3 separate regions of the Homo sapiens genome follow, and all the other regions are linked to region 1. Evidence: fine-mapped expression QTL. A gene starts in region 1. Each other region holds a variant in brackets. All regions are shown on one strand. Distances are between the middles of the regions.

Region 1 (8,221 bases):
TTTGCGGGAGGGTGGGGCACAGGGTTAACCTAGGGAAGGGTACCATTTCAATTTATTATAAATCACATATCATTATTTTATAAAAGCAAAGACCAAACAGCACAGTAATAGGCTCATTGTTATTAAGACTGATTATGGGAATTAAAAAATATATACTTCTTGACTTTGCCATAGTTGTAAATACTCTGGGTAGCTTGACTTTATATGTCAACAGCGTGAAATTCGCAAGAAGAGATTATGTTGGGAGGAAAATCTGAGCCTCTGATAGTCCAAAGTTACTTTTGAAGGATTTATTAATGCTTTTTCCTAGCACAGTGCCCTTTAGTATCTCAGAACACCTGTCAAATACTAATTCATTCACATATCTCCACTACAGGGCCTTTTCATAAAAAGCTCAACCTTTAATTGTAAATCACCCCTAAATTGTCCTTGCTGTCTTTCTCTTTTACAGAATGATGGAAAAATCACTAAGACTTCAATTAAGACTTTATGGGAACTTCAATCTGATGTTCCCAGCTATATCTACAAGGTATCAGAACATCTATTCAAAAAGGAAACTATAAATAACTTTAACATAGTTGAATTGGCTTTGCTTTTATGAGATGACTGAATAATTGGCAAGATTTAAAGATACTTTAACTACTGGGAATTAAAATAACTTCAGTAAAACCCAGAAAAATATTGTTAGCCAATCATTTGTCATGTAGATTATGTACTTATTAAGCCTAATTAAACTTTTTGAACAAAAACGGTTACTAATTACATTCGTTAATATGTTGATTGCTCAATTTAGCCAATAAAAAAAAAGGTCAATCCAATTTGTGTGCATAGTTAGTGCTTTGGTCAAGAGACAAAATCCCAAACTATAGAGATTATTTCAAGTGCATGACCATCATTATAACAAACGCAGGTTACGTGTCCACATCCAAACTGACGGCAAGACCTGGGGGTGGGTGGTGAATCTGAACAATACCAACGCTAAGGCAAATCTTCAAGCCAGAGAAATTTCACCACCACATCAAGTTTATTCGCCTAAATGTATTCACTTGCATTTGTCCAATTAGACCCTGATGGTGACAAGACAAAGTTATCTTTCATATGCACATACAAACTAAAACTGATAGCAAAACCCTGGGAATCCCTTTAAATGTCAATAAAGGGCTTTTACGCACAAAGGGAAGAAAAGAAAAGAGGAAGGAGGGGGAAAAGAAGAGATGGGAAAAACCAACATTTCCGAGGGAACTGAGCAGATCAAAGGAATTTTATTCTAGAAGACTACTAAGTCGGAGTGTAACTACACTCTCTCTCTCTCTGCGAAATCTTGAAAAGTGTCTTCAGACTGGAAACTAGTTCTGATCCTTAAAAGAAAGGGGACAAACAATTATGTCTGCAAGAGCGGGACACGAGCGTAAAAATGGAGGCCTCCCTTGCAACAGGAGGCGGGAGGCCCGGCGTCTTCAGACCAGGACGCCTGACTGGGCCTCTGCGGCGATCCGGCCCTCCAAGACATGTTTTCCATTCCCTTGCTCAAAACTCTGCATCCACAGTCATGAGGCACAAACTATTCGACAACAACATGACACAATTAATCAGAACCAGACCTCAAAACGTGTGTTTGTGGGGACCAGCAAACTTTGAAATGTGCCTAAGAGGGGCAAAGCAATTGAAGAGCCTCACACTGGCTGTTTGAGATGGGGAGATGGAGAGGAAAAATCTGTACGTTCATAAAGGATGCACACCAAATGGGACATTTACAGACTAAATAATTTTCGCTCAAATAAATGTGGGCTTTGGAGCTTTACTTCCCATACTGAAAAAGTAAGGTGTAGTCTTGCTACCTCCCCTCACCCTTTTTTTCTTTTTATGGGGAGAAACTGATTTCTGAGAGCTTCTGCAGCAGCAAAGTCGTCCAATTCAGAAGCAGAACGTATCCTTTTTTAGCTTCATTTCTGACCCAGCCGTATTCACCCGGTTTTGTCAGATTTCTCTTTCAGGAAATGAAACCCTATTTAAAAAGTGAGAAGCTGGACCCTTAGTTAATTCAAAACTGTTTAATTTCACCAAAGCCTGAAGCTAATAAAAAAAATCTGGTATACTTTTTTAGACCAGAATTGAATTCGTTTAAAATAATTACTGAACGCTCCGTTGTAATCAGCAGATAGTAATTAATTGAAATCACATCATTCTTCTTTTGCTAACACAAACACGCTGTTCAAAAGAGAGACAAAAATAGTTTCAAATCATGAAAAGACAAATGGAGGGCAGGAGTGATACTCGTCGGGTACCGAACTGACCCCAAACTACAAACAGTTCTTTGCCATCTCCCAAGGGATTTGTAGGTGTGGAGTTGGAACTTCCCAGGAACTGGGCCGGGGTCCCCAACCGCGAGCCCAGCTGCAGCCTTGGGAAAGGGGGGTGGGTGCAGGTGAATCCCAGCGTCCAACCCAACGAGGGGGAAGGCAATGAATGTTTGCGTTTGGATCCAGGGTTAGCGGAGACCTATCTGCAAATGTTCTGCCAAACCCCCTCCCGGGAACATTTCTCCTGCTGCTTCTTGGCTTCGCAGAGAGCACTGGGCGCAAATTCGGGCGTCCACCACGAGCGCCACGCGAGCGAGTGGACCTGCTCTGAGCCCTCCCGGGTCCCGGGCATCGGCGAACGCGCCTCCCGCCGTTCCCTCGACCCGCGCTCCTATGAACTCGCCGCTGCGAGGCCCAGCAGCTCCCGCCCGCGGCCCCACCCGCCGCCGGCTCCGCCGCCGCACCCCACTCACCCACGCACTCGTTGGCTTCGCGGGCTGTGGCGCGCTGCCAGGGCCGGTCGTAGTGGAAGGGCTTGCAGCGGTCGCACTCCGGGCCGGCCGTGTTGTGCCTGCAGTCGCACACCAGGCTGTCGTCGCGGTCGCGCACGCAGCGGGCCGCGTGGCCGTTGCACTTGCACCGGCCGCCCACCTGCAGGTCGGACACCGCGTAGAAGTACGAGTCGCGCGCCAGCTCCGAGTCGTCCTCGTTCTCGTCGCCGAACGTGTGCAGGCGGCTGAAGGCCACGCGGATGTCTGTGGCCGTGACCCAGTCCTGCAGCACGGGCGAGTTGTCGAAGTCGTGCGCCGAGGGCCGCCCGTCCAGCGTGCTGAAGGCGATGAGGCCGCCCGAGAGCGGGCGCATGTCGGTGTGCGAGTCGGTGCACACGGCCTCCTGCTCGTTCTGCTTGGTGATGGGCGCGCGGTGCGGCCGGTTGTACATCTTGCGGCACTGCGTGGAGTAGAACTGGAAGGGCACCCACGTGCGCCCGTAGTCCATGGACTTGTAGATGGCCATGGACTCGGGCCGCGGCGAGCAGAACTGCAGGCTCACGTAGGTCACTTCGAACTTCTTGCCGAGGGACAGTGTGAGCGTGACGTTGTGCGGGAACTGCAGGTAGTTCTCGGACTGCCAGCACGTCAGGTTGTGCGGGTTGTTGAGGTCGGTGAGGAAGGCGGGCGGGTGCGCCTTCTTGGGGTCGGACGCGTTGCAGAGGTGGCACGAGCGCAGCCGCTCCTCGCCGCGCTCGCTCACCACGCAGTAGCGCGCCGGGGGCCGGCCGCAGGTGCTGGACACGCGCACGTCCTTGCCGAAGGCCGCATTGACAAAGTCCGGGATGCAGCGGCGCGGGTGGCCGTTCTCGTCCGAGCAGGGATCGGGCTGCGCCGCCTGGCCCGCGAACATGCTGAGCCCGGGCCCGCCGCGCACCGCGCCCACCAGGCACGCCACCGCCGCCAGCGCCGCCAGCGCCTCCCACACTGCGCGCATCATGCTGCGTCCAGCTTGCCCCGGCCCTGCCGCGCCGAGGATCTGTCCGCCTGCCGCAGAAGGCGCCTGCGGAGAGAAGGGAGCTGCGCTCAGCCAGCCCGCCCCGCGCCCTCCAGCTCTCGGCGGGGTGGCGAGCGGAGATGCGGGAGAACGCCCGGCTTCCTGGGCACCCACCCCGCAGCCGACTGCCCGCCTCTCTCCCCCAAAGTCCCGCGGGCGGCGAAGCCGGGGCCCTCCAAGTCCGCACCGCTCGCGCCCCTTCTTCCCCGCCCGGCGGGAGAACGCTCTGCTTCCCCGCCACCGCCGCCCCCACGCCGCCCGAGGGGCATGCCTGAGCCGGTCTCCCCGTCCGCGACCAGCCCCCCTCGCACCCCAAGTTTCGGGCGCAGGAGAGCTGGGGGACCCCGACTCTGCACGGCCCGCGCCCCTTCGTCTCGCAGCCCGGGGTCCCTCTCAGATGCCCCCCGATCGCGTCCCCGCCGGAAAGTCCGCGTTCGGGACTTTACCTCTGGAGGGGGCAAAAGAGAAAGAAAAGTTTGCCTGGCCCCTCCGGGGAGCCCGCGCGCCGGTCGCCGGAGAGCCTCTCGCTCGCTGCTAGCAGGCGCGTCCCGCCTCAGCGCGGGCTTGCCAGCTCCATGCCCGGCGCGGCCGCCGCTGCCCCAGCCCCAGCCCCGGTCCCGGCCCCGCCGCCGCCTCTCTCGCCCGAGTGACTACGCGGCCGCCCGGCTCCCGCCGCTCCCGCCGAGCTCGGAGTGCTGCCCTGCCCGCGCCCGGGGCGCACACACACTCACGCTGGCCGGCGCGCACTCACACACACGCGCGCTCGCCCCCGAAGGCTCCGCCGCCGCCGCCACTCGCGCTGGGAGTGAGGGGCGGAGGGGAGCGCGGGGGCGGGGGGCGGGGCCGCCGGGCGGGGCGCCGGCCAATAACGTCCGCGAGCTGCCGCCAGCTCCGAGCAAAGTTTTCACCCCGGGAAAGAAGAAAGTTAAAGGGAACCGGCCCGGACGCCCGAGAGGGAGAGCACAGGCGGGTGGGAACCCGGGAGCCCGAGAAAGAACAGCAGAGACAAAGAGAAAGCGAGGAGAGCACCCGGGGAAACCCCGGAGAGGGGGCTGGGCCGGGCCAGGCGCGCACCCCGTGGGGGAGGAGGGGCCGCCGGGGACTGTCAGCCTCGCCCGCGCCCCGCGCCGCCCGGAGAGCCTCACGCCCGGGGGAGCGCGCGGGCGGGGGAAGGGGGCCACTTTCTCCCTCCCGGTCCCAGCCAAACACATCTGTGTTTGTTTTCTTTGCTGCGCGGAGGTCGGGCCTTCCTCTAACCCAGCCTGATGGCCCCCGGTGGCACCGCGCACAGGGCTGTGCCCCTGTGGGCACGCAGCCCGGGAGCGTGAGGAAGAGGAGGAGGATGTGACCTCTGCCTGCTCTCCATTTTTGCCCGAAGCCCCCGGGGTCCGGCGAGGAGGGGCTGCTCGCCCGCACTCCCACGGATATCACCGTGCGTGAGCCTGTCTGTCGGGAACGCGGCTTCGTTCTAGCCAAGGGAGCAGTGGTGGGCAGGAGGCTGAAGGGGTAGGAAGCTGGCAGCACCTGGACGCTGGCCACCGCCCCTCCAAGACGGGCCTGCCTGGTCTCAGGCATGGGGACAGCCCAGCCCTCCCCAGATCCCCTGAGGCAGGCGTATCGGTACTTCCTCAACCGCATTTTTAAGGGTGCAAAGCCCTGTAATAGCTCATGGGACCTCCACAGCAGCTTTGCTGTTGTATTAACTCCATTTTGCAGATGAGGAAACTGAGGGTCCCGGGAGCTGAAGAAACTCGCACAAGATCAACCCCCAAGTAAACATCAAAAACAGGAAGAGAAGCCTGGGCTCCTTCCACTGCAGGGCATTCGTCAAATGCATAACCTTGCCGAATGATGGTGTCATGGGGCATCTGCGGGGCCACCCAGCCCCTCCTTGCCTCATTCTCCATCGCCCCAATAAAAAGACTGAGGACAGTGACAGCATCCTTTGGTCATCTTGCAACAGCAGCCAGAGAGCTCTGGGAAAGGAATACACTGGGCCGAGAGTTTGGAACGGAATCTCTGCTCGTTTATTTGTTACTTGTAGATGTGTGGTCCAGTAATAGACCCGGATGAAAAGCCCCAGGTCCTGGTTCCGGCCCAAGGGCTGCCTTGCTGCATTAGCTCCATTAAGTGCCTCAGTTTGTCTTATTGGCATTTTCATAAACCCTGAGAATCTAAGAAGGGGCCTCGGGGCTCGTCTGGCCCAGCTCCGTCTCCTTGGAAGAAGGCCTTCCCCAGCCTCCCAGAGAGACGGCCACCCAAGCCAGCTCTTCCAGGGATGGGAGCTCACCACAGCTCAAGAAAATAAATCCATTCCATTGCAGGACAGCCTGGATTCATCTTCTTACCCCGGGGTAGCAATTTAGCTGTGCCTTCTTGTGCCGTTTACCACACTCTGCACTGTTTATTTATGCCTTACCTCACCTTGTGGCAGAAAGGATTTCAGGTAACTTACAAGGGTACATAAAATATGACACAATAACAAATTAAAAGTGAGGTCAAAGGAAATAAATGAAATGGTTAACCATGGTGACCTGTGAAATCGCAATGGTATACTGAAAGGCAGCATAGCTCTTAGGAGGAAACGCTTCGGAGCCAGGGTACCTGGGTTCAAATTCTGCCTCTGCTGTGTGACTATGGAAAGTCTATGCCTTGGTTTCCTCCATCTGTACAAGGGAGATAATACTTTCTACCCCACTGGGTTGTGAGCATCACGTGAGTTGACACATTTGAATATTATAGCTGATGGGATATAGACATACATATTGCAGGTCTGTAACACATATAAATAGGCTTTCTCATGTATGCAAATGTAAATATGCATAAAACCAGGCACATAGTACATGCATATAGAAATGTTAGCTGTTAGTATGAGGTCGCTTGATCTATACAGAAATTTTAAATCATTTAGAGAACACTTAATTACAGGGAAAGATGTTCATGACATATTATAATATGAAAAAAGCAAATTAAAAACACACAGTATAATGTCATTTTAATTTTTTAAAAAGTATGCATAAAAAGACAACACAGTTAATAGTGGTTATCTCGGAATAATGAGATTACAGGTGATTTTTATTTATCTTTGCTTGTATGCTCTCAGTTTTGCACAGTAAAATATGAAGTAAGAGAACAAAGAAAAGCTAAGAAGGGAGACAAAGTCGAGAGGAGGATACAGGTCCAATGCACCCTGGAGTTCCAACCTCTACACCTCTTCTGAGTGGGCCACAAATTTGTCCCTAAGCTTTCCTGCAGCTAAAATGAGGAGACCATGTTCATTACACAATTCCCAGTGTCCATGAGATAAAAACAGACCTACTGCTCAAGGGAATTACAACTATTCTTGGTACTAAAATCAGATAGGAATTTCTTGTGGGGGCGTGGCCCAGAAAGGGAACACAGTATGGGGTAATGAGCAAACGTCCCTGACAACATCCCCAAAACAGTCACAACAGTGAGCTCGGTTGGACAGTTTCTGTGATCCCCCTGAATGTAAGCTGATGGCATCGCATCAAAACCCAAGTCAGGAAAAGACATTCCAGCAAAGAGGAATGGAAAAGAAGCAAATTGGGGTGCTCAGCTGACTGGGGTACCTTTTGGAGCATCTACAAGACTGGATTGAGAAGTGCTTTCCAAGCCTTCCTCCTGAATGTTGTTTCTGTCCACAGAGCCTTTTTTTTTTTTTTTTTTTTTAAGATGGAGTCTTGCCCTATTGCCCAGGCTGGAGTGCAATGGCGCATTCTCAACCTCTGCCTCCCGGGTTCAAGCGATTCTCCTGCCTCAGCCTCCCAAGTAGCTGGGATTACAGGTACCCACCACCACACCTGGCTAATTTTTTTGTATTTTTAGTAGAGACGGGGTTTCACCATGTTGGCCAGACTGGTCTCAAACTCCTGACCTCAAGTGATCTGCCCGCCTCGGCCTCCCAAAGTGCTGGGATTACAGGAGTGAGCCACCGCGCCCAGCCTATGTCCACAGAGCTTTTGATGGCCCTTGCATGGCAGTAAGTTTGAAATGGCTCTTGGTAGAGTGTGGCTTTTCTACATTGCCAGCTGAGCTTAGGCCAGGGGTCTTCAGGAGAGGATGAGCGGGGTCACCTTCCAGTTTTATTGTGGTCACTTAGGTCTACGCTTATCATCTTTAGTAGTTCCTGGTGAGCAGGACTGTCTTACTCACCTTGTATCCAGGAGGTCTAGAACCTCCTGTAATACGGTGGAACTCCTCTACGTCCATTCCAAACCCCCCTCTCTGTTAAGTCTGCAGGTGGCCCAAACCCTACGCTACACAGCAGCCCAGATCAAGGTTCTCTGCCTCTTCAGATTCTTGAAACCAGTCCTCTATCATCCCTCAGTTTTATCTCTTCTGGGCAAAAT
Region 2 (8,000 bases), 140 kb before region 1:
GAAGCCTCTGAGAGCAAACTGTCAAATATCAAACCTCGCAAGGAACCATTTCCTTGAACCATCTGGCCCTGGGAATACAAGGCAGGAGGTGCTGGTGGTGGTGGTGGTGGTGGTGGTGGTGGTGGTGGTGGTGGTGGTGGTGGTGGTGGTGGAAGGGGGTTGACCAGGAGACCCCTGTTTGAAGATCTCAAGGGTACACATCCCGCCAGCATCTGAACTTCTCCTAACGATGGTTCCTACCAAGATCTCAGGGTCTCTTTTTGGTGGGAAGTGTCCTATATCCCATAAGAGCATGATACCAGGAAAGGAAAGAGCTGAGGGGAAAGATCTGGACTTTCCAGAGATGTCTTTCTTCACCAATCAGATGGCTGGACTTCTTGGGTCAAATTTTTGCTCACCAATCAGAGAGTAGATATTTTCTTGCCAATCATGAAGCAGAGATCTCTGGGCAATGCTTTTTCTCACCAATCAGAAAGCAGAAACCTCAAAGCCCTGTCTTTCCTCACCAATCAGGTGGCAAATATTTTTAAGTGTAGTCTTCTGTCACCAATCAGGTGACAAGTTCCTTGAAGCACTGTCTTTCTTCACCAATCTGATGGCAGTTTCCTTGAAACACTGTCATTCCTCCCCAGTCAACAGGCACTAAGAGTCCCACCCTTTCCTGCCACATTTCTTCAGTAGAATTTGCCTGTGTCTTTCTGAGTAGAATCCATCCTTAGGTTTTCCCGTCCTGTGAGTTATTCTCCCAGGGTTCCCACCAAGGCCGGGGCAGCTGCTGTCCATGGCTGGGAAGGAAAACACAGCCACCTAGGCTGGCCACAATGTTGTAACTCGTAAAACAAGAACACATCCTCATTTATTTGCATCTGGCCCTCCTACAAACCAGTAAAGGAAGGTGGGCAATATCATGCCATTCAGCCAGAGTGGCAGACCCCTGGAGAATGGCCTGCGGGTTCCCGGGACCCTGTGGCTTCCTGACGTCTCTCACTCTGAGTGGTGAGAGGCTGCAAATGGCTCTTGTCCCTGTCCACAGCAACAGGGTGTAGGTGGAGGTGACCAGGGCCCTGCCCCTTCTTGCCTCTCTGGGAAACATACATTTCTAATTGGACAGCAGAAACTGGCATGACAGGAAGTGACCAGTGCCCTTTCTCACCCAGACCTTCTCACTCTCAGGCACAGGACTGCCCACCTGAGTGGCCGCTGTTGGGTAAAATTTCTTGGCTGAACTCCCAAGAAATCTATGTGCAAGCCAGCTGTTTACAAGACCCCTGGCCTCCATTTCTTCTGTAAAAGAGAGACAACAAACACTCTGGGCACAGGCAAAGGAGCTGGATACCTTCCAACTATGTTCTCTGGAAGCCCAAAGCCATCTCTCCCGGGGCTTGTCCTGGTCACACCTTTCTGGCATTGCAGATGTTTCTCGGGTCCCTTTGCCTGGGCCACCTTCCCATTCATTCTCTGCTCAGTCTTCTGGGGGATTCTCACCTGAAACCGTGATTTTTTAAAAAATGTGGAAACAGCCCAGCTACCTTTCTGTTCATGTTTCTCTTGGCAACCACCAGAGGCAGCCGTAAGTCCGCAGACACAGAAGGACACCTTGCTTGACCGAGGGAGCCATTCTACTTATGCCTGTGCATTTGGAATCAAAGGGATTTCTCCTGGAAGAGACAGATTGGGAACCTGTTTATTTTGAGAAAAGTGTTCCACATAAGCAGGGCTGGGTTGGATTCATGGGCCCCGTGCTCAGAAGGGCACCAGCTTGGTTGAAACTCTGCTGTCCTTGTTTCAAAATTCTTAATATCTCTGGAATAAGAAGCCCCCTACTTTGTTACTTTCTTTTTTTTTTCCCCCAAGATGTTCTTTCTTTTTTTTTTTTCGAGACAGTGTTTCGCTCTGTCACCCAGGCTGGAGTGCGGTGGCGCGATCTTGGCTCACTGCAACCTCCGCCTCCCAGGCTCAAGCTATTCTCCTGCCTCAGCCTCCCAAGTAGCTGGGATTACAGGCAACCGCCACCACACCCAGTTAATTTTGCTATTTTTAGTGGAGATGGGGTTTCACCATGTTAGGCAGGCTGGTCTTGAAGTCCTGACCTAGGGTGATCCGCCCGTCTTGGCCTCCCAAAGTGCTGGAAGCCCCCTATTTTCATTTTGCACTGGGCCCTGCAAATTATGCAGTCAGTCCTGCACACAAGTGCCCAACATCTGGTGGACTTCCTGTTAAGAAGATGATACTTTTGCTTCATCCACACGCTGAGCAGTGGCCACAGAAGGGTTTCTCTCCTGCAGGACGCCACCTGGGCCTGTCTGCCGTGGCTTGGGACCCTGGTGTGTTCGGGTCTACACAAGTCCAGGTCAGGACCCCACCCATGCCGAGGTGTTGCCCATGAGCCCTCAGAGGTAAATATCTTCTTGGGAAGCCATGTTCATGGCAGGCCCTGACCTTAGGCCACAAGTTTTGCAGCAGGAAAGCCCTGGTTCCTGGAATTCCCAAAAGATTTTGTGGGGTGGGGGGGGCCCCGCTTCTCACCCTCCAGCATCACTGAATTCTCTGGCATTTCATCAACTTCTCTGAATCATCTGACCATTGCTTCATTTTTGTTGGTACGAGAAAAACAAACAGCAGAAAGTTAAAACATTAGTGCTTGCTTCAGTGGACGAAAATAGTCTCCCGTCTCCTTTTAATTTTTTTTTTTGTCCTGAGAAGTAAAGCTATTTGCAGATGGATTAAATGTTCCTTCTGAGACCCTGCCCCTGAAACTGCCGACTCCGCTGTGACTGTACGTGTGTGTGTGTGTGTGTGTGTGTGTGTGTGTGTGTGTGTGTGTTTCGGGGGGGAGTGAGGGGCGGTGCGCACATATCCAAAGAAGTGAGTCTGCGTGCATTTGGTGAAAGAGAGTCCTTTGTCCCAACGGTAAGCCTGGCGAACATGACTCGCAGCCCTCTGGTATGCAGCACACCTGTGCAGAGGAGAAGCCCAGGAGGGGGAGGGGAGGGAGAGGTGTTGGCGGCCGCAGCCCTGCACCCTTGTAGGGGATCCCACCTTCTCCTTTCTTCTCCTTTGAGCCATGTCTCCATCACCCCTTTGTTTTGGCTTACACCTCCAAATACCAGGGAGGCGTGTGTGTGTGTGTGTGTGTGTGTGTGTGTGTGTGTGTCACAGAGAGAGAAAGAGAGAGAGATGACCTCAGACAACGCCAATTTGTACAGACTGGAAGAAAATAGAAAAGGAAGCGAGGAGGGAGCGGGAGGACTGATGTTCCCCGGGTCTCCCCAGCCCCCCGCCCCGCCACGTGTAGCCCACCTTTGCAGGCCTTCCGGTGGGTGATGGGCTTGCCCATGTCGCGGTAGTAGCCCTCCTTGCAGTAATGGCAGTGGCGGCCGGCGGTGTTGTGGCGACAGTTGAGGCAGACACCTCCGCTCTTGCGCCCCGAAAGCTTGTAGAGCTCCATGTTGAAGCGGCAGCGCCGGGCATGCAGGTTGCAGTTACAGGCTGCAGGGGGAGACAGAGAGAGGTGTCAGCCGCAGGGGCGCGGGGAGGACAGGCACCCAAGAGCGTCAAAAGAAACCCCACCCCTCAACTCCTCCCTTCTCCACTAGCAGAGCCAGGCAGGCAGACTTGTGCTCCAGGAGCTCCTCCTCGGCTCCTCCTGTTTGTACCCGTAAGCATTTATTGGGCACGTAACA[A/G]TACATGGCTAAGGTTCTCCCAAAATTCTTATGTTGAAGCCGTGACCCCCAGTACCTCAGAATGTGACCATATTTGGAGACAGAGTCTTAAAACAAGGCCCTCAGAGTGGGCCCTATGCCAGTATGACTGTGTCGTTGTAGGAAGAGGAGATGAGGACACAGAGAGACGCAGGGACGCATGTGCACGGAGGAGAGATCCCGTGAGGACGTTGCCAGAGGGCGGCCATCTGCAAGCCACGCAGAAGGGCCTCCAGAGCAACCAACCCTGCCAACACCTTGATCTTGGACTTCCAGGCTGCAGAACTGTGAGAAGTAAACGTCTAGCGTTTCAGCCCCCAGCCCGTGGCACTTTGTTGTAGCAGCTGAGCAAACTACTGAGGCCCCTGCTGCCAGCCTGGCCTCCCCTTCTCCCCCTCCCCCTCGTCCACCGAGGACTCTGGGGCCTGCACACCATCGTTCTTCCCACCTCAACCTGTCCAGCTTCCGGAGGCTGCCCAGCCCTGCTCTGGGGAGAGGACCCCCACATTGTCAGCTATGGCTCTGCTCCACCTGTTCCCTCCCCATGAGCATTGCTCAGGACTCAGCTCCCTTTCCCTGCCCACCTCCACACCCTCCCCATCTGTCTCCTTCACCACTCATCATCTCTGTGCTCCCAACTCCCAAATCAGTATTTCCAGCTTCAGGTCTGGGGTCTCCACTTGAACCCAGAGTCACCTGCCCGACATCATTCACTCCTTACCATCCTGCCCTCAGGTTCCCTGTGGCTTGAGCTGAGTCCCACAGGCTCCCCTCAGCATGATCAGCAGAAGCACAATTTCTTTTTGTTTGTTTGTTGTTTTTGAGACGGGAGTCTTTCTCTGTCGCCCAGGCTGGAGTGCAGTGGCCTGATCTCGGCTCACTGCAACCTCCGCCTCCCGGGTTCAAGCGATTCTCTTGCCTCACCCTCCTAAGTAGCTGGGATTACAGGTGCACACCACCACGCCAGGCTAATTTTTGTCTTTTTAGTAGAGATGGGGTTTCACCATGTTGGTCAGGCTGGTCTTGAACTCCTGACCTTGTGACCTTCCCACCTCAGCCTCCCAAAGTGCTGGGATGATAGCCGTGAGCCACCACACTCAGCCCAGAGCAGGATTTCTAAGCACCAATCTGAGGGCGCCCATCAGGATCAAGTCGAAAGCACTCAGCATGGCCTTCAGGGCTCCAAATAAGCTGGTCCTGTCTCGTCCTTCAGCCTCTCGCTCTTTATGCTCCAGTGATTCCAAACTTTGGTCTGTTTCTAGAGCCACGTGCAAGGACCCCTCGCCTGCCCCTCTGGGGCTCTGGACATGCTGTTCCCTTCCTCCCAGGACACTCCCGTTTTATCTGGCTGCCTCCTTCTCATCCCCCAGGTCTTGGTTCCAATGTTACTTCCCAGCCCCGCTCCACCCCACCAGCCTGGCGTGGGCACCCAGCATGGCCTCACACAGCTTTCCTTGTGCCACATCAGGATTGCCTGTCACCTGCCTTCTTCTTTAGGCTTCCAACCCCAGGGTTACTCCAGCACAGGTCTGGCCTCTTCTCGTTCACTCCACAACATGGTTTCACGCTCAGTGTGTTCTAAATCACGTTTTATGGAATTTCTAAAGAAATACATGCTGGGTTTGTTTTGTTTTGTTTTGTTCGAGGCAGGGTCTCACTCTGTTGCCCAGGCTGGAGTGCAATGGCACAGATCTTGGCTCACTGAGACCTCTGTCTCCTGGGCTTGTCAGATCCTCCCACCTCAGCCTCCCAAGTAGCTGGGACCACAGACATGTGCCACCATGCCCAGCGAATTTTTTGTATTTTTTTTTGTAGAAACAGGGTTTCACCATGTTGCCCAGGCTGGTCTCGAACTCCTGGGCTCAAGATATCTGCCTGTTTTGGTCTCCCAAAGTGCTGGGATTACAGGCGTGAGCCACCACACCCAACCTAAGAAATATATATTTAATTCATGCACTCAAAAAACAAAAGCAGGAAGAGAAAGGAACACACTCCTATTTCTACCAACCACAGTTGCTACAGAGATCTTTCCTTTCAGGCTTTCATTAACATTTGTTCAGTTGTGGAGCTATTTAATTCTTTCCTACAAACACGGATCATACTTTTATACATCTAGTTTTGTGGGGGTTTTTTTTCATAATAATGAACATTTTCTTGTGTCAAATACTGATCTTCACAATGTTTAAAAGATGTCCGGGCTGGGCATGGTGGCTCACAGCTATAATCCCAGCACTTTGAGAGGCCAAGGTGGGCAGATCTCTTGGAGCCAGGAGTTTGAGACCAGCCTGGCCAATATGGTGAAACCCCGTCTCTACTAAAAAATACAAAAATTAGTCAGGCATGGTGGTTTGCGCCTGTAATCCCAACAACTCGGAAGGCTGAGGCAGGAGAATCTCTTGAACCTGGGAGGTGGAGGTTGCCATGAGCCACCACTGTACTCCAGCCTGAGCCACAGAGCGAGACCCTATCTCACAAAAATTAAAAACTAAAAAATAAAATTCCTCTGGCACTGTGTTGCATGGCTATGCATAGTGGGCCTCTTGGAGTTGGAAGTGGAGGCATTTAAAAGAAGGACCTCCCAGGGTTGGGCACCTATAGGTCGTTTCCCATTTTTCACTATTATAAATGTCAACTACCTTTGAACATAAAGGTAACCACCTTGAACCACCTTTGAACATATATATTTGTGCTCTGCTCCAATGACTGTTGTAGTGCAAATTTCTCTAGATGGAATTACTGGGTTGAATTTTGAACCTACATGTTTTTATATTTTTATTTATATTTATTTATTTATTTATTTGAGATGGAGTCTCGTTCTGTAGCCCAGGCTGGAGTGCAGTGGCGTGATCTTGGCTCACTGCAACCTCCGCCTCCCAGGTTCACGCGATTCTCCTGCCTCAGCCTCCCGAGTAGCTGCTATTACAGGCGCCTGCCACCACACCCGGCTAATTTTTTGTATTTTTAGTAGAGACAGGGTTTCACTATGTTGGCCAGACTGGTCTCAAACTCCTGACCTCGTGATCCACCCACCTCGGTCTCCCAAAGTGCTGTGATTACAGACATGAGCCACTGCGCCCAGCCCTTCTACATGTTTTTAACATTGGCACCAAATTGCCAAACTGCCCTCAAGAAAGGCTGTACTGGCTTATACACCTACCAGCAGGATATGAGAGCTCCTATTTCACCACGTGCTTGAAAATAATAATATGCATTTGGTATCGGCATTCTTTTTAAAAAATATTGGCCACTCTGTCTGAGAGAAAACACACACACACAGACGATTTTAATTTGCATGTCTTTGATTACTAGGAAGGTTGGGCATTTCCCCATGTATTGTTTTTCTATTTATATTTCTTTTTTGTGCATTGCCTGTTCATGCCATTTGCCCAGTTTTCAAATAAGGTGGACTTTTTTCATGCTGTCTAGTGATCAGGAGGATTAAACATTGTTTGTCTTTTCTGCCATATAAGCTGTAAATATTTTTAAGTTTCTCATTCACATGTTACTTTAATTTGTGATCTTTAGAAAAACATGTGCCTCTTTAATTTTTCTCTCTGATGTTATGACAAGCTTCTTTAAGTGCTCTTCCTAGAGTCACTGCCAAGTCACTCACCCATTAGTCATTTCATTTACAAATAGAGGTGGACAGGGCCCTAGAAAAAGCAGTGTGGGATGCAGGAGAAAAGACAGCTCCTGCCCTGAAGTCTGAAAGCAGCCAGAAGCCAAATTAGACCAGGGGATGAGTCCCAGAACCTTGCTAACTGTCCTCCGGCAAGTGTTCCCAGGGCTGAGTTCAACCAAGTGCAAAGAAAGAGGCTGCAGCTGCACCTTGCCCTCCTGCAGACGACTGTCACGCCTGCACACACTCACTCTCTTTGGACTCACTCTGCCAGACAAGGGTGACAGGGGCCTGCTCAGAGAGGTGAAATGACCAACCAGCCCAGGACCACAGAGCCAGTAAATGGGGGGGCCCAGGATGGGAACCCTACCCTTCTGGCTCCTGGTCCACTGGCTCAGAGGAAAAGACCCCTATCACTGGAAGTAACAGCTGGCCTAGACTACAGTCAGAATCTACATCTTTCTTACAAGCACAGAAATCACAGGAACTGGAACACCTGCCTGGGGACAGGGATCTGGAAGGATCACCCAGGCCTCACTTCCTCAGGCCTCCCTTGTACCAGGAAAGGCCTGATAACAGCATCATCCTGTCCTTCTTGGAGGCAAATGTCCTTCTCCTGCATTTTCCAGAGGGGCCTGCCCTAACCTCTGAGCCCCTTCTGGGAGCTCAGCCTCCACTTT
Region 3 (8,268 bases), 320 kb before region 1:
GCAAGCAGGCCTACATGAGGTGGCATTGTGCATCTTTGCAGGCCAGAGACAGCAGTGTGGGGTCTCAGTGTGCCTGGGCACTGAACAGAGGAGGGCTGGGTGATGGGAAGAGAGCAAAGAAAGGAAGAGGTTTGGTGGCTCATGCCTGTAATCCCAGCACTTTGGGAGGCTGAGGTGAGCAGATCACCTGAGGTCAGGAGTTTGAGACCAGCCTGACCAACATGGCGAAACCCCGTCTCTACTAAAAATACAAAAATTAGCTGGGTGTGGTGGCGGACGCCTGTAATCCCAACTACTCGGGAGGCTGAGGCAGGCGAATTGCTTGAACCCAGGAAGCAGAGGTTGCAGTGAGACAAGATCACGACATTGCATGACAGCCTGGGCAACAGAGCGAGACTCTATCTCAAAAAAAAAAAAAAAAAAAAGTTTAGTATCAGAGGCAGACTGCCCACCTACAGCATTTTACCTGGAGCCTCCGTGGTCTTGACCCCTTCCTCCTTCCCAAATCAATTGAAAAACATCTCCTTAGCCTAAAAGGTGAAATTTGCAAGTATATGCAAGGAAGCATCCTGTACTTAGGCAGCAAAAGTCCTGGGCTGTTGAGCAAACTAGATTAACTTTGCTTTAAGTGGTTGTTGTTATATTTTGTAACTTTTTTCATTGTGCCACTAATCAATTCCTGGTACTTGGGCCTCCTCATGTAACCTATTTACTCTTTTTTACAAAAAGAACATTTTTTAAAAGTTAAGGGAACCTGGGTGAAAATTAACTTGAATTTTTAATTAGGTCGGGCTTTTATTTTTTAACATCAGTATTAACCTGGAATTAATATTTCTCATCAAAGAACGCAAACCAGAACACTACAGGAGTGGAAGCTTCGCAGCAGAAGGGAGGCCCTATCCGGCAGATGGGGAGGGCCAAGGGAGCAGGAGGAGGGGGTGGGGTTGGCTGAGTTGGTAACAGGAGCAGTCTGTGAGAAGTCTGCTGGCTTATCTGTTCCCAGTAGGGAACTGCTCTTCACTTTCCCCATCGCAGGTTTGACATCCATCACCACCATGCCTGCCTCCCTGATCTGATGGCAGGATTTATATAGTGAGGCTCTGAAAAAGTGGAAAGGGAGGTGCATGGGAACCAGCTGTGAAATGATAAATCAAGACCTCTTTAAGGTCCAGGATTATTTTGGCATCTTTCACATGAGAGGCTTTAAGAAGCAGGAATATGGCTAAAAGCATGGGGTTTATTTTAAGAGAGAAAACAGTTACAATGATCAGTTTGGCTGTTTAAATAGACGTAGCTTCATCATGGCTCCAATGTGGCTGTTTTGCACCTAGCAGTAGAGAGAACAGTTCTAATTAACCCCTTTCATCTGATTTTACTGTCTCTGGGTAAACTGAGCCCCATCCATCATTCCAAAGGCTCTATAAAAACTTGGAGTGGTTGAGAGTACCCGGGGCAACAGTGTGGTTTGGTTTCTAAGGCTACGTATCGAAGAATCACATCTCCACTGCTTCTTGAACTGGAGCAGAAGCATTTCTGGGTTTTGTGGTCCAGATCCTCTTGGGGCATGTTTTTCTTAGAAACCTTCTCCATCTCCTGGCTCCAGCTGTCCTTACCACTCAGTGCATCCTCACATTTGCAGCTTTTTTTTTTTTTTTTTTTTTTTTTGAGACAGTTTCACTCTTGTCACCAGGCTGGAGTGCAATGGCACAATCTTGGCTCACTGCAACCTCCGCCTCCCGGGTTCAGGCGATTCTCCTGCCTCAGCCTCCCAAGTAGCTGGGACTACAGGCACGTACCACCACACCTGGCTAATTTTTGTATTTTTAGTACAGACGGGGTTTCACCATATTGGTCAGGCTAGTCTTGAACTCCTGACCTCATGCTCTGCCCACCTCAGTGTCCCAAAGTGCTGGGATTACAGGCGTGAGCCACCGCGCCCGGCCATTTGCACTTTTATCTGCACATCTGTCTCTTGATCTCCCTGTCATTTCCTGGCACTCAAAAAGTTTAAACCAAATTCATCATTTGCAACCCCTCACCCCACTATCATAAACACACGCGCCACACACACTTGAAACCCAGACAAGAAGCCAGCCCACACCGGTATTTGTGTTTGGCACCACTGTTCTTCCCGTAGCTCTGGCTGGACAATTCCTTTCCTATGTGGAGCTCTTTCTCCTCCTCCAGTGCCTACTGCCCCTCAGGCCATAGCATGTCTTGCACGCTTAGGGCTCTCCCTTTGCATTTTCTCTGTCACCATTCTCTGAAGGGCCCCCCACTGGATCATCCTGAAACACTACTCTTATCTTGCCAGGCCCTTGTTAGTGTAAACCTTGGAGAGCTCCAACCTGGCTCTGGAGCAGGGGTCCCCAACCCCTGGGCCAGGACTGGTACCGGTCTGTGGCCTTTTAGGAACTGGGCCGCACAGCAGCAGGTGAGCGGTGGTTGAGCGAGCATTACCACCTGAGCTCCGCCTCCTGTCAGATCAGTGGCAGCATTAGATATAGGAGCGCAAACCCTATTGTGAACTGCACATCCGAGGGATGTAGGTTGTGTGCTTCTTATGAGACTCTAATGCCCGATGATCTGAGATGAAACAGTTTCATCCCGAAAACCATCTCCCCCTTCCCCTCCAGGCCGTGGAAAAATTGTCTTCTGTGAACCTGGTCCCTGGTGCCAAAAAGGTTGGGGATGGCTGCCCTAGAGTGCACAGCCCACAGTCCTTGGCTCTGGATCTGAGGCTCTCCACGGTCTCTCTACATGGTCTCGTCTGCCACCTTGTTCCTCTACCCCTATGGAAACCTCCCACTATAGCCAAACCAGTTATTTCTTCTCCCCCAAACCTAGCTTGTCCATTTCTGCTTCTCAGCATTTGCTCACACAGTGGGCTCCCCTCAGTTGCTGTTCAACTTCAAATCTTGCTTCAGCTGCACTTGAGTCATGTCTTGGCCGGGCGCGGTGGCTCATGCCTGTAATCCCAGCACTTTAGGAGGCCGAAGCCGGCAGATTACCTGAGGTCAGGAGTTCGAGACCAGCCTGGCCTACATGGTGAAACCCCGTCTCTACTAAAAATACAAAAATTAGCCAGGCCTGGTGGCACATGCCTGTAATCCCAGCTACTCGGGAGGCTGAGGCAGGAGAATCGCTTGAACCCAGGAGACAGAGGTTGCAGTGAGCCGAGATCACGCCATTGCACTCTAGCCTGGCAACAGAGCAAGACTCTGTCTCAAAAAACAAACAAACAAAAAAGTCATGTCTTGTGGCGACTACTCTACTTTCCCTCTATGCCAATTACGTATTTTCACTCTTTCGTTTATTAGAGATCCATGAATATATGTATCTTTGGAAGAGAAGCCATGCCTCCTTCTCTTTATTCATTGTGGAGGCCAGGCGGGCATAGAAAGGAGTGAGGCTGCAGTAGAGAAGCAAAACCAGAGAGCATCCCTCTCAAGAGGTCAGCCCCAGGTGATTGTTGCCAGGTAGCAATGTGGGCCCAATATCGCAGTCTCTTCTGATTTTTCAAGGCAAGCCAAAACCTCCATTTCCATGTGAAATTGCTTAATTTCGACTTTCCACATGATACTTTAAAGGTGGTATCTACTAGAGAAAAGAGTCCCTTATAATTTACAATTTTAAATTTTACAATTTATAATTTATATATATAATATATATTTATATATATAATTTATAATTTATAATTTAAATTTTACAATTTAAAAATCATTTCAGCTGGGTGCGGTGGCCCACGCCTGTAATCCCAGCACTTTGAGAGGCCGAGGCAGGCAGATCACCTGAGGTCGGGAGTTTGAGACCAGCCTAACCAACATGGAGAAACCCCGTCTCTACTAAAAATACAAAATTAGCCAGGCATAGTCGCACATGCCTGTCATCCCAGCTACTCAGGACGCTGAGGCAGGAGAATCGCTTGAACCCGGGAGGCAGAGGTTGCGGTCAGCCCAGATTACGCCATTGCACTCCAGCCTGGGCAACAAGAGCAAAACTCCATCTCAAAAAAAAAAAAAAAAAAAAAAAAATCAAGTGCAACATTGATAAGAAACAGCAATATATTCACTGGAAAAATACAAAGCCTGCCTTTCAAGATAACTTTAGGATTCATAAGAGTAGATTTTCTGGAAAATCAGGAGTTGAATGTTCCATCCTGTGAATTTAGGATTTAAATGATAGAAAACCATGCTAGTGTTTATCATGTTTTCCTTTTGCAGATAAATTTAAGTACTATAAATTCCCGTTACTTAACATAGCCAGATGCCTTTAATATCTTCTAATTTTCATTTTGTGAAAATGTTCAGTGAAACAAATTTTTAAATGGCATTTTCCCAGATCGACATTAGAGGACAAGTCTGTTTGAGAGGGCTATTAATTGCTCAGAGAGTCTGCATGTTGGGGAAAATCACAGCCCTTTCCAGCTTTGATAAATGAGAGAAGGTCACCTG[A/T]GGGAAAGGAGCAGCTGCCCTCTTTGATAGGCTGAGAAAACAGGAGTTACTGGCCTCGGCAGGTGTTTGGAGAATTCCCACGCAGGTGCACATTCCAAATGAACTATTTATTACACGTGGGCTTCTGTGACATGGTCATCTTTCACCCATTCATCACATTTTTATTGAATCCCTTCAGCAATGCTGTGCTATGGGAGGATCCCGCGGTTGCGTCAGCCTTAGAGTCCTACCTTCAAGTTGCTTAAAGTCCAGCAGGAGAGAGAAAGAAACACCACAATCATGCTCATACAAGACAGAATCTCATCAGTGTTTCTTAGCTCCTAAATGACCAACTTAAAGCATTCATAATAATAGTCAGAGTAAGCAGTATCCATGGCGCTTTCAAAGATACATAATGTCTCTTTCGGTCCTTACGCCAATTCTGTGGGAAAGTTTGATTCCAGTCTTGTCTGTCTTATATATGTGATGACAGAAGCCGGGCACATTCCTGTCTCATAAAGAAAAAGCCCTTTCTGAGCATAGGCCAATAGACAGAGTACACAGCAGGAATGAGGAGTCCTTTTTTTTTTAGATGGTGTCTCACTCTGTCGCCCAGGCTGGAGTACAGTGGCGCAGTGGCGCGATCTCGGCTCACTGCAACCTCCACCTCCTGGGTTCAAGGAATTCCCCTGCCTCAGCCTCCCAAGTAGCTGGGATTACAGGCACCTGCCATGACGCCTGGCTAATTTTTTGTATTTTTAGCAGAGACAGGGTTTCACCGTATTAGCCAGGACGTTCTCGATCTCCTGACCTCGTGATCCACCTGCCTCGGCCTCCCAAAGTGCTGGGATTACAGGCGTGAGCCACTGCACCCGGCCTGAGGAGTCCTTTTATACTGGAGTTAATTAAGTTCCTAGAAGTTTTCTTGATTGGTTGGTTGGTTTTTGGAAGCATTTTGATTAGTTATGTAATCAAGAATGAGTAGAGAGAGGAATTTAAAACACTTCGTTTACTTGTCTCCCTGAGCAGCCGCATGCCAAGGTTGTAGACAGAGGTGCGGTGTCTGATTCTAGGGTTTCTGGGATGGCTCTGGGTCTCAGGATGCTGTAGTCTTATACTGTGATTCTCTGGCTTTCATATTTAAGAGCTTCACCTGGAATTTTTTTTTTTTTTTTTTTTTGAGACGGAGTCTCGCTTTGTCAACCAGGCTGGAGTGCAGTGGCATGATCTCTGTTCACTGCAAGCTCCGCTTCCCGGGTTCACGCCATTCTCCTGCCTCAGCCTCTGGAGTAGCTGGGATTACAGGCACCCGCCACCACAACCAGCTAATTTTTTGTATTTTTAGTAGAGACAGGGTTTCACTGTGTTAGCCAGGATGGTCTCGATCTCCTGACCTTGTGATCCACCCGCCTCAGCCTCCCAAAGTGCTGGGATTACAGGCGTAAGCCACGTCATCTGACTGGAATGTTTTTTAAAATGCAAACATCTGGGCCCCACACACAGAGATACCGATTCAGGGGGTCTTGGGCCTTGGAAATTGATTTTATTAAATACCCTCAGATGATCCTGAAATAGGTGGTCCTTGGAAACTGTTCTTTGAAAAGCTATGCTGTATCAGTAGAAGAGAGTAGACAAAAATCTCACTGCAGAAATGGAGTGGCCATGACAAAGACCATGTGAGTGGTCCATCCACAGTGCTGCAGGAGTTGAGGGTTGAGAAACAGATCAGTTCCAGCCACCATGACTGGAAGAGACTTGAGTTAGCACAGACAAAATGGGTGGACTCTTGGTAGTTTGAAATGAGTAAGGAATTACTCAGGAGTGGAATGAGCTGAAGCACCATGTGTCTTCAGGGGATCTGATCAAGTCACTCCTCAGTTTAAAAACCCTTCAGAATACCTGGACGCTGTGGCTCACGCCTGTAATCCCAGCACTTTGGGAGGCTGATGTAGGCGGATCACCTGAGGTCAGGAGTTTGAGACCAGCCTGGCTAACATGGTGAAAACCCATCTCTACTAAAAATACACAAGTTAGCCGGGCGTGGTGGCGGGCACCTGTAATCCCAGCTACTCTGGAGGCTGAGGCAAGAGAATAATTTGAACCCGGGAGGCGGAGGTTGCAATGAGCCAAGATCACACCATTGCACTCCAGCCTGGGCGACAAGAGTGAGACTCCATCTCAAAAAAAAAAAAAAAAAAAAAATCCTTCAGAGGTGCCCCAAAGCCCTCAGAATAAAGTCCAAACTCCTCAGCACTGGTTTCCGTAGCCTAGCAGGATCTAGTCTCAGGCCGAATCTTCCTTCACTTCCTTCCCCGTTGGCCACACTGCACCCTTTCTCAATACACACTTTCTTTTTCTCTTCCATGGACTAGGATCCAGCCACCCTGAACAGTTGGCATCCCTGGCTTTCCTTTATTTTGGTGGCCTTGTACACATTCCCGCCTCTACCCAGAATACCTGCCCTCTTTTCTATCCCGCATTTCCCTTCACTAACTTTTCAGTCCTTCAGGGTTGATTTGGGATGGTATGTCCTCCAGAACAGCACAGACGCAGTATCTGGGGATCTTGTTAATACGCAGGTTCTGGCCGGGCACAGTGGCTTACGCCTGTAATCCCAGCACTTTGGGAGGCCAAGGCGGGCAGATCACCTGAGGTCAGAAATTCGAGATCAGCCTGCCCAACATGGTGAAACCCCGTCTCTACTAAAAATACAAAAATTAGCGGGGCATGGTGGCGTGTGCCTGTAATCCCAGCTGAGGCAAGATAATCGCTTGAACCCAGGAGGTGGAGGTTGCAGTGAGCTGAGATTACACCACTACACTGTAGCCTGGGCAACAGAATGAGACTCGATCTCAAAAAAAGAAATAAAATAAGAGATGGCAGAGGAGAGTAAGTGGTCCCTAGGATTTTGAGGAGTATACTACTTGGCTCATCCTCTATCCCAGTATGGACATTGAAATAAGTTATCAACCTCCTTTGAAATACTAATGAGCTCTTTTTCTTCCACAACTCAAGCAGTGTTTTGTATTCTGGGAAAAAGCCTTTTCTCTTTAATTTTTGTGCTTCAAAGTTTCTTTTTTAAATGGATGTATATTTTCCTGTGGAATTCTCAAGATAGTTTTTCATGTGTGTTTGTAGGGACGACATGTTTTAGAAATTTCTTTCCAATCCTCTTAGGCATTGTCTGAGAGTTTTTCTGACGTGTAAAGCTCTCAGTTCCCTTTTATTGTTTCCTGAGCTGTTAGGACTACCTCATTCCATTTTACTTTAAACTTAACATTTTCCAGGGAATGATTGGAATTGAAATAGGCATTCATTCAAATGTTCAGAACTTCATTTCTCCTGCACCCACTTCTGGCTGTGGCCTTGTAGGAATAAGAATGGAAACTAACAAAAAGTGATAATAAAAGGGGAAGACCTTGGTGAGTAAATATCAAACATACCATTTCACCCTGAAGCTTTTTTTTTCTAGCTATATTTACTACCCCTCTAAATACCCAGTTAGAAATTGAAAGTAGGCTGGGCACGGTGGCTTACACCTGTTATCCCAGCACTTTGGGAGGCCGAGGTGGGTGGATCACAAGATCAGGAGTTCGACACCAGCCTGGCCAATATGGTGAAACTCCATCTCTACTAAAAACACAAAAATTAGCTGGACGTGTTGGCGGGCGCCTGCAGTCCCAGCAACTCGGGAGGCTGAGGCAGGAGAATTGCTTTAACCTGGGAAGCGGAGGTTGCAGTGAGCTGAGATCGTGCCACTGCACTCCAGCCTGGGACACAGAGTGAGACTCCATCTCAAGAAAGAAAGAAGGAAGGAAGGGGAAGGAAGGAAGGG

Which allele goes with the higher level. Alleles are on the strand shown, and positions count from the first base shown. SD is a standard deviation of normalised expression in the study named.
For the expression in tibial artery of the gene that starts at base 4,655 in region 1, allele A in region 2 goes with a lower level than allele G (moderate effect, 0.53 SD a copy in GTEx).
For the expression in pancreas of the gene that starts at base 4,655 in region 1, allele A in region 3 goes with a lower level than allele T (large effect, 0.89 SD a copy in GTEx).

Evidence for each region. PIP is the estimated chance that this variant, and not a neighbour inherited with it, causes the effect.
Region 2: its variant is fine-mapped to the expression of NTN1 in tibial artery (GTEx, PIP above 0.99). The same link has a PIP of 0.9 or more in aorta.
Region 3: its variant is fine-mapped to the expression of NTN1 in pancreas (GTEx, PIP above 0.99).

What each region holds. Positions count from the first base shown.
Region 1 is chr17:9,017,944-9,026,164 of GRCh38, reverse strand. It overlaps NTN1 (netrin 1), which reads right to left and starts at 4,655. Exons shown (of 7, transcript NM_004822.3): 1 at 4,580-4,655; 2 at 2,774-3,854. The coding sequence starts at 3,791. RefSeq lists silencers at 4,404-5,193, 5,244-5,293 and an enhancer at 4,714-5,257.
Region 2 is chr17:9,158,302-9,166,301 of GRCh38, reverse strand. NTN1 (netrin 1) reads right to left here. Exons shown (of 7, transcript NM_004822.3): 3 at 3,301-3,489. Among named protein-coding and RNA genes, the nearest start is that of NTN1, 140 kb to the right of the region's middle. The variant A/G (reference allele first, on the strand shown) is at 3,684.
Region 3 is chr17:9,336,416-9,344,683 of GRCh38, reverse strand. The region is part of intron 7 of STX8 (syntaxin 8); the gene reads left to right. Among named protein-coding and RNA genes, the nearest start is that of STX8, 240 kb to the left of the region's middle. The variant A/T (reference allele first, on the strand shown) is at 4,455.